Regions from separate parts of the Homo sapiens genome. Here region 2 is linked to region 1. Evidence: fine-mapped expression QTL. A gene starts in region 1. The other region holds a variant in brackets. All regions are shown on one strand. Distances are from middle to middle.

The links.
Region 2: its variant is fine-mapped to the expression of ERAP2 in activated CD8 T cells (Schmiedel 2018, PIP 0.95).

What each region holds. Positions count from the first base shown.
Region 1 is chr5:96,874,242-96,878,642 of GRCh38, reverse strand. ERAP2 (endoplasmic reticulum aminopeptidase 2) reads right to left here and starts at 2,143. Exons shown (of 19, transcript NM_022350.5): 1 at 2,116-2,143. It also overlaps a transcript of ERAP1 not described here. RefSeq lists enhancers at 1,245-1,454, 1,825-2,034, 2,205-2,354, 2,375-2,504.
Region 2 is chr5:96,903,338-96,907,738 of GRCh38, reverse strand. ERAP2 (endoplasmic reticulum aminopeptidase 2) reads right to left here. Exons shown (of 19, transcript NM_022350.5): 13 at 4,179-4,362. It also overlaps a transcript of ERAP1 not described here. Among named protein-coding and RNA genes, the nearest start is that of ERAP2, 29 kb to the right of the region's middle. The variant T/AT (reference allele first, on the strand shown) is at 1,795.

The sequences.
Region 1 (4,401 bases):
TTTTATTTTTTTTGAAAGACAATGTGTCACCATGTTGCCCAGGCTGGCCTCAAATTCCTGGGGTCAAGCAATCCTGATGTCTCAGCCTCCCAATTAGCTGGAACCACAGGCACACATGTAATTTTAAGTGTATGCCTGAAAGTAAACTGTGCAAGATGTCTCTATTTTGTCTTCATAAGTCACAAAGAATATTCTATATATATATTCTATATTCTTTGGATACCAGATATTATTATTACTACGAATGGCATTGAACTTCACCTCTTTCAATAACATTATCTGAATGGCCTCATTTTATGGCTACTGGTGTAAAGGTTGCTGGTCAAGGTAGGTATTTATCCCCAGTTTATTTTCAATATGTCAAAAGCCATGGAAATAAATTTTGAGTTTATAATATTCTTACAGAATTTTTTTAAGGTTCGGTTCTTTTCCCTTTACACTACTTTTGAAAGCACAATTAAATCAAACTGAATTTACTACCTTTGTAAATAGAACTAAGTTTCTTTCTTTTTGAAGGGTAAAGCTACAACACATATAAAATTAGGACAAACAGCATAGTTAATTTGGGGGAATCAATTCTTACTGCCACCCTACCACCTGCCTCTACTTACTTCCTTACTGCTCCAACTCAAACCATGAAGGTTTTCTCTGCTACTTCTTCTTTTTATAATCCTTAACAAGTTCTGCAGCATTAATTATCCAAACAATTACTTCAATTTTTCAATTTGCAATATTAATGCAGGTGACAGGTATTGTTAAAGGAACAAAAATAAAATAATATTAAAGATACTTCTCCCTCTTTTTAAAAACAAGCATTAAATTACTGCTACAAATCTCAGTGTTCCAAGAACGTCTGATAAGTACACTCATAATTGGTCTATTAGCTTGAATTTTGGAGGGTTTAAAAAAAATGGAGTGGCTTATTATGTGGGTCTGAGGCTTTGGAATCAGAGTGCCCAGATTCCAACGCTAATTCCACCAACCTCACCTACGTGATCATGGGCAAAGTTTTTTACTTTTTGAGCTTCATTTATCTCAACCATAAAACAGTGTAATAATTATACCTTCCTCATGCTGGGATGATTAAATGAAATAATTCATGTGAAGAAGTTGGCACAGCACAGCATGGAGCATATAGGAAGTAAGTAATTAGTGTTGGATATGAAATTATTATTGAGGTTATAACTTGCATTCAATGGCCAAAATGAAGGAGTAGCTCGCCCCCACTTGTAGCAGACACTCCTAGAGATGTACTTGATTGATAAGAGTAGAGAGAAAAGCTTTACTCACACAGTCTTTAACTTTAGAACTAGTAAGGGTTGTAAAGGCCAGCTAGTACAAGTCCTTAGTGTTCAGATAAAGAAACAGGACCGGGCACAGTGACTCAGGTCTGTAATGCCAGCATTTTGGGAGGCCAAGGTGGGCAGATCACCTGAGGTCAGGAATTCGAGACCAGCCTCACCAACATGGTGAAACCCTACCTCTACTAAAAATACAAAAATTAGCCGGGCATGGTGGCACATGCCCGTAGTCCTAGCTACTCGGGAGGCTGAGGCACGAGAATCGCTTGAACCAGGGAGGTGGAAGTTGCAGTGAGCCGAGATCGTGCTGCTGCACTCCAGCCTGGGCGACAGAGCGAGGCTCTCTCTCAAAATAAATAAATAAATAAATACATAAATTAAATTAAATAAACAGATGAAGGAACAGGATGGTGACTTCTCAAAATCCACACAGGAAGTCTGAAACAGAATCAGGACTAAAACATAGCTCTTTGCCCTTTGGTCTGGTGGGCTTTCTATTATACTGCACTGTACCTTAAATAGCAATGCAGTGAACAAAACATCCTGGGATTGAAGAGGCAAGAATTGTCACAAACGCTTAGAAAAGACAAAAAGATCTCTGAAAGAGAGTCAGTGCAGCAGCGTCTTAGATCAAGTCCCAGCCTCAACTGCATACACTTTCTAATACAGCCGCGCCCAATTCACCCCAGTCCCCCAGAACCTTGCCTTAGATTACAAAACCTTCTCAACACAGCAGTTCTATACCTTCAGTTCATTATTCTTATTGAAAAAATCTAATTTTAAGACAAACCCAAGAGAAATGTTGATACGTTACCTTAAATCATGCTGCTGCAGATTTGACTGAAGGGGAATTTACTTTTGCTTTCACTTTCTGTTCTAAGATTCAGAACTTTGCATGCTTCCTGAGTACAGTAAGTACTAGCTGGTTCATTATCACGCAGGTGTGAATGGAGCTTAGGATAAGAGCTTTATTTCAAAAAGGACAAGAAACTTTTTGTAGAATGCACAAATAAGTGGCTTTGGAGTAGAAGCCAAACCATGGAAAGAAAGGATCGCCAGTGGCTGCCACTTCTGCTGTTATCACCTCCCTTCCCTTGTCCCCAGGGTAAAGCCTTCAGAACATAGTTTATGTTTTTTAGTGCCAAGTTGTTGTCTTAGGAATTGATCTTGAACTTCTCCTTGTGCTGCATCCTCAGTGCTATGAAATCTGACTTCTGCCCATCCACCCCACAAACGTAACTCCAAGCTTACCAAACACCTCCCGGGCAGCTTCTGTGATCTTTATCAGAGGTGATTATTCTCAGATTTTCCATGTCTGTAACCACCCTGTCTCCTTGGGCACGAGGGGACTGTATCTCATGCTCATCTCTTTGATCTCTCTTTATCTGCCTGTTTGAGTTGGGCTTCAACTTCCTCTCTGCTCTGAATACAGACCTTCCACAAAGATGAAACCTCTGGCCTTTGCTCTGCCCTCTCTTTATCCTTTCCAGTACCCAGATTTAGCATTTATCCCCATTCATCCCACATTGCTCCCATTGTGATCCCTCCTTCAAGGGTTCTGCTGCTGTAATTCCAACAGCCTGATGGACCAACAGTACATGGATGTCTAACCCTAACCTGAACCAGAACCCTGACAACTCAAATAGTGTTTTCTTTCCCCAGATAAACACCCTTTGCTTTATATGCTTCCAGCCTTCTTCCATTATCTAGGATTGAACCATATAGTTAGTTACTTTGATTCTGTCCCTCTCCAATTTGTTACCAAAGCCTGTTGATTTTTCCTTTTCTTTTCTTTTTTTTTTTTTTGAGATAGGGTCTCACTCTGTCACCCAGGTTGGAGTGCAGTGGTGCCATCCCAGCTCACTGCAGCCTTGACTTCCTGAGCTCAAATGATCCTCCCACCTCAGCCTCCCAAGTAGCTGGGGCTACAGGCATCCACCACTACACCCAGCTAATTTATTATTTTTTTTTTATAGATGAGGTCTTCCCATGTTGCTCAGGCTGGTCTCAAACTCCTAGGCTCAAGTGATCCTTCTGCCTCAGCCTCCCAAAGGATTGGGATTACAGGCATGAGACACCGCAACTGGCCTTTTTGAATCATTTTCAATCTCTTTCTATCCAACTAAGAAAAAATCCCACCGCTTATTAAAGTAGTCCAGGTCCTCATCCTTCCTCACAATGGCCTTCAATCATGTCTTCCCAGCTTCTCAAGCTCAGCTTCTTGCAGTTACTTGTACGATGCCACCAGATTAATCCTTTCAACTACTGCTCGACCATGCCTCCCCCACTGCTCAAGATCTTTCCTTGATTTCCCCATTTACAGAGGGGCAAGTCCTAGTGTGGGAACCATAGTGGCCTACTGGCAGCCTATATGCCAGCCTATAGTTGTTTTGTTTGAATCACAGTCTATTAAATGGCAATACATCCATACAATTTCTATTGTCAAGTGAAATATAACAAGCTTAGCTCTTATCATGTTGCAGACACTCTTCATAGACTTGTATCATGTGCCTTGTCCTGCTGTGGTTTGTGTTTGCAACCTATGTTTGGCCCAATAGCACATGTTGCCATGATTAGATCCTAGTTAAGTCTCAAGCTTTAATTTTTCCACCTTTCTACATTTTATTATTTCAACCTGAAAGAACAAGTCGATAAAGTAGAAGGGGCAGAAAGGAAGGCAGTAGCCTACACCTAAGGCCCGAAACATAAGACTGAATGGGGTCCCTCAGAGCTGCATTTCATGTAGTGAGAGGGGCACCACAGGAAGGGGGATGGCTGGAAGCCAGTGAGTGGGAAAAAGAAGGGGACAAAGACGACAAAGAAGAGGAGGCCCCAAGGGCTTATCTACGGACTCTAACTCTGCAGGGCGTGGGGGCAGGTAGAAGAGGTATAGGAGGCTGGGAGTATTTCTGTGATATTCCTTGTCACAAGATCCAGCCTAGCTGTGGGTATGTGGGCGAGTGCATGTGTGTTTTCAGAGCTCTCTCCTGCCCACTGGAACAGAAGTGGTGATGGAGAATGAAGAAACAGGCTATGGAATTGAGCTGCAGAATCCTAGAAGTGAAAATTGAGCCAGATTCAAGTACTTGTAGCTTATTTA
Region 2 (4,401 bases), 29 kb before region 1:
GCTAATTTTTTGTAGTATTAGTAGAGACGGGATTTCACCATGTTGGCCAGGCTGGTCTTGAACTCCTGACCTCAGGTGATCCACCCGCCTCGGCCTCCCAAAATGCTGGGATTACAGGCATGAGCCACCTGGCCCGGCTAGTCTGCCGTATTAAAAAAAAAAAAATCCACAAAATGTTGCTACTCCTTCCCACCTGTGTGAGCAGCACAATACCTGGCACAGTTGATACCTTAGCATCAGCAATAGGCAGAAATGATATTCCAGGGCCACAATTTTAAGAAGAATATTTGACATATTAAAACTACTTTATATTAAGCCAGTTTTTCTTTCCAGCCCAGCCTAATTGATTTCTTACTAAAATCAATGCCATTATTAAAAATACTTACTTTTATAGTTGCCTATTTCTTTTAATTTTAATATTTATTCATAAGGGACTCCTTTTCTTTTTATATAGTTACTGAGTTGTTTAATTAAAAAATCTAAGTCCTCATTACTAACCCTATGCTTCAAAAAATGCATAGAATGTTATCTGAATGTTTGTTTAGCTTAAAGAATAAAACATATATAAACATAAACCTTAGCTCAACAGTAAAAGTCCACACCTACTTACTTGTATATGATTTCAGCTAGATTGTACCTTTGAGAAATAACATCATATTCTTGAAGCACCAATTTGGGTTTTCTGTTTTGTTTTGTTTTGTTTTGTTTTTGAGATGGAGTTTCACTCCTGTTGCCCAGGCTGGAGTGCAATGGCACAATCTTGGCTCACTGCAACCTCTGCCTCCCGGGTTCAAGCGATTCTCCTGCCTCAGCCTCCCAAGTAGCTGGGAAGGCACACACCACCATGCCCAGCTAATTTTTATAATTTTAGTAGAGACGGGGTTTCAACATGTTGGCCAGGCTGGTCTTGAACTCCTGACCTCAGGTGATCCACCCGCCTTGGCCTCACGAAGTACTGGGATTACAGGCGTGAGCCACTGCGCCCAATGTGGGGTTTTCTCTTTAAGGTGTGGGACTAAAAGAAACAAATATAGCTTTTTCTATAGGCAAATTGAAGTTGTCATTTCAATTCCACTCAACTTATCCAAGACCCCTGTCTTTAAATTACATTTAAAATGTATGAAAACCGAACTAAAATAAATATCAATTCTTGCATCAAATTCTCTCTCCATTCTGGGTGCAGTGGCTCACACCTGTAATCCCAGCAATTGGGGAAGCCGAGGCAGGAGGATTGCTTGAGCCCAGAAGTTTGAGACCAGCCTGGACAACATAGGCAGACGCCATCTCTGCCAAAAAATTTAAAAATTGGTTGGGCATGGTGGTGTGTGCCTGTAGTCCCAGCTACTCAGGAGGCTGAGGTGGGAGGATCGCTTGAGCCCAGGAGGTTGAGGCTGCAGTGAGCCATGATCGCACCACTGCACTGCAGCCTGAGTAAAGCCCTTGAAGAAGAAGAGCAAAGCCCTTGAAGAAGAAGAAGAGGAAGAAGTAGAAGAGGAAGAGGAAGAGGAGGAGGAGAAGGAAGAGGAGGAGGAGGGGGAGGAAGAAAAAAAAAAGAGACAGTGTCGTGTCGTGGTTAAGAGAATGGCTCTGGAGACAGCCCTTGGATGACAATGTCTTGTCCACTAAAGAACTAAATAGTATCACCTCTTGTAAAGATTGATTTACACTGGGTGTGGTGGCTCATGCCTGTAAACTGAGCAATTTGCGAGGCTGAGCAGAAGTGCTTGAGGCCAGGAATTCAATATCAGCCTGTACAATATAGGGAGACCCTGTCTCTACAAAAAAAAAAAAAAA[T/AT]TAAAAAGAAAAAAAAATTATCTCTCCAAACTAAATGTGATCACTATTGGTTCCTTTGATTCTTTTTTGTTTGTTTGTTTTTTGAGACAGAGTATTATTCGGTCACCCAGGCTGGAGTTCAGTGGCGTGATCTTCTGGGTTCAAGCGATTCATGTGCCTCAGCCACCCAAGTAGCTGGGATTACAGGCGTACACCACCACACTGGGCTAATTTTTTTATTTTTAGTAGAGATGGGGTTTCACTATGTTGCCCAGGCTGATCTCAAACTCCTGGCTTCAAGTGATCTGCCTGCTTCAGCCTCCCAAAATGGTAGGGTTACAGGCATGAGCCACTGTGCCGGGCCTCCTTTAATTCTTAAATTGAAGTTTCATAAAGCAGGGAGGAAAGTGGTTTATAGTATTGAGAAAGAACAGCAAGTAAAAATTATTTATTTTTATCTATTATGAGAGCTTTAAATTGTTTTCTTATACAATTACTTTTGTTATAAATGTAATATAAGTAAATATAAACAAATTTCAGAACAACTAGAAATTAGACTCATAATTACAAAACAACCAGAAATTAGAGAAGGCTCATAATTTCAATACCCTACACACTCAACAATAGCATTTTGAAATAATTCCTTCAGGTTTTTGTTTCCCCTTCGCACTTATTTTTTTCATTTGTAGTTGCAAACAAACATAATAATACACAGACTTACATTCTGCCTTTTTCTCAACTTCACATTATTTGAAGTGTACTTTTCTATGTTGTCATCTCCTCCTCCTATTCATGTCATGACATTTCAAATAATTTGTATTAGATAATACTAATAATGTTAACAGCTGACATTTATTGAGTAAGTACTGCACTTACTGCTTTATCTTCATTACCTATGCAATCCTCCAAACCTTGTATATCGGATATTATTAGTAATAAAGTTTTAAAGACTGGAAAATTTAGGCTTAAAAAGGTTAAAAAAACAAAACTTGTCCAAGCTCAAAAAATTAGTAAGTGAAGAGGTAATACCTGAAATCTTCTTGAAATTTTCATATAAAATTTGTATTCTTAACTTCATTAATCTGTCTACTTAGTGAAGAAAAGATGATTAGTTTTCCACCAATGCATCAATAACTGCAAATTTCCTCCTACTAAATTTAGACAATCTAAGTGGATAGGCTAGAAACAGCAAAAAAGATTTCACAACTACCTAAAAGATTAATTTGCTGAATTGTCAATATTCTCCATTTTTTCCAAGTCTTGCATTGTTAATCTATCTTCTCTTCAATCTACTCAGAGCTTCTCCTTTGAGCAGGCAAACCTCCTTCAACTAGCAATAGCTTGCTTCTTAGCTCACCTTTCATGCATTCACTCATATGTAGGATGGTGTTTTTCCTAATTTTGGCCTCCAATGAGCTATGCCTCCAAGATGTTCCTGAGACCCACGGGACTGAGGATTAAGCCTCACTTCCTCTTTTCTTTCTAACTAGAGGATTTTAGTGTACCGAGAAACTTTGTCTCAGAGATGTCCTGCTGGTCACTTTCACTCAATTTGACCTAAATAAGCTCCTGAAAGAAAATTATATGTCACATTGAGTAAAGTGAGTGCATCACAGTAATTCTCAGAATAGGGAAAGCTTGCAATGCACAATATACTTCCTGGTCCTCAATTCCCTCCAGCCATTGGTGATCTTGTGACCTGATTCATTCCACACATTATTCTGTTCATGATACATAGAAAAAGAAAGAAAACACTTTGTCCTTCCAGGAAAGTCTAGAGAGGAATGAATGCAAACAGCCATTTATTACTTCATTTCCCTACAAACGTCATACTAATTTCTCCAGTGTAAGTAATGAATAGATTTCATAACAACCCATTTAAAATTATAAAAGTTAAGACTATATTTGTACTTTTCCTTAAGAGATTACACCGGTATTTGGTGTAGCAGCTAATAACATAAATACATTTTAAATGTGGGGTCGAAAGCTCAAATACTTAGAGAGTCCACACTAAGTGAATGAAACAGGCCATTTGGGACTTTGGTGCTTGGGAGAAAGTAGGCCTGGCCTAAAGAGAGTTTGGCCCACTGCACTCTCCTTTATAGCTATCCTGTGGCCCACAGGATAAAGACCCACAGTTGCCAAATATCATTTTTAAGAGATTCCAGAGGTCAGGATTTTTAGGTAAAGTTCTCCACATTTTAAAATATTGGATTACAATTATAAACACTGTGTGGGTCAAAATACGTTATTAGTGGGTAGTCTTTGGCCTAGTGATCACTGTTTGAATTCCATTCAAATCCATATTAAATCAATGACCAATGTTGAACATTCAATATTGAAGTCTAGCATATCTGGTTACGAATCAGTTATTTTGCATGAAGTCAGAGGAAATGTTGCCTTACCCAACTAGCTGAAACACATCATGAATCAGACCTACTCTGTCCTTAGGTCTGAGAAGTGTGTGGTTCTGATTCAGCTGTGTAATGAGTTGGTCCCATCCATGACCCTCATAGTGAACGATGTAGTAACCATTTGAGTCCACATTAAATTTCACCCAACTGGTCTTTTCAGGTAGATCCAGAGTATCTAAGAGGATAAGATTGGCATAGGCATTTTATTATCAAC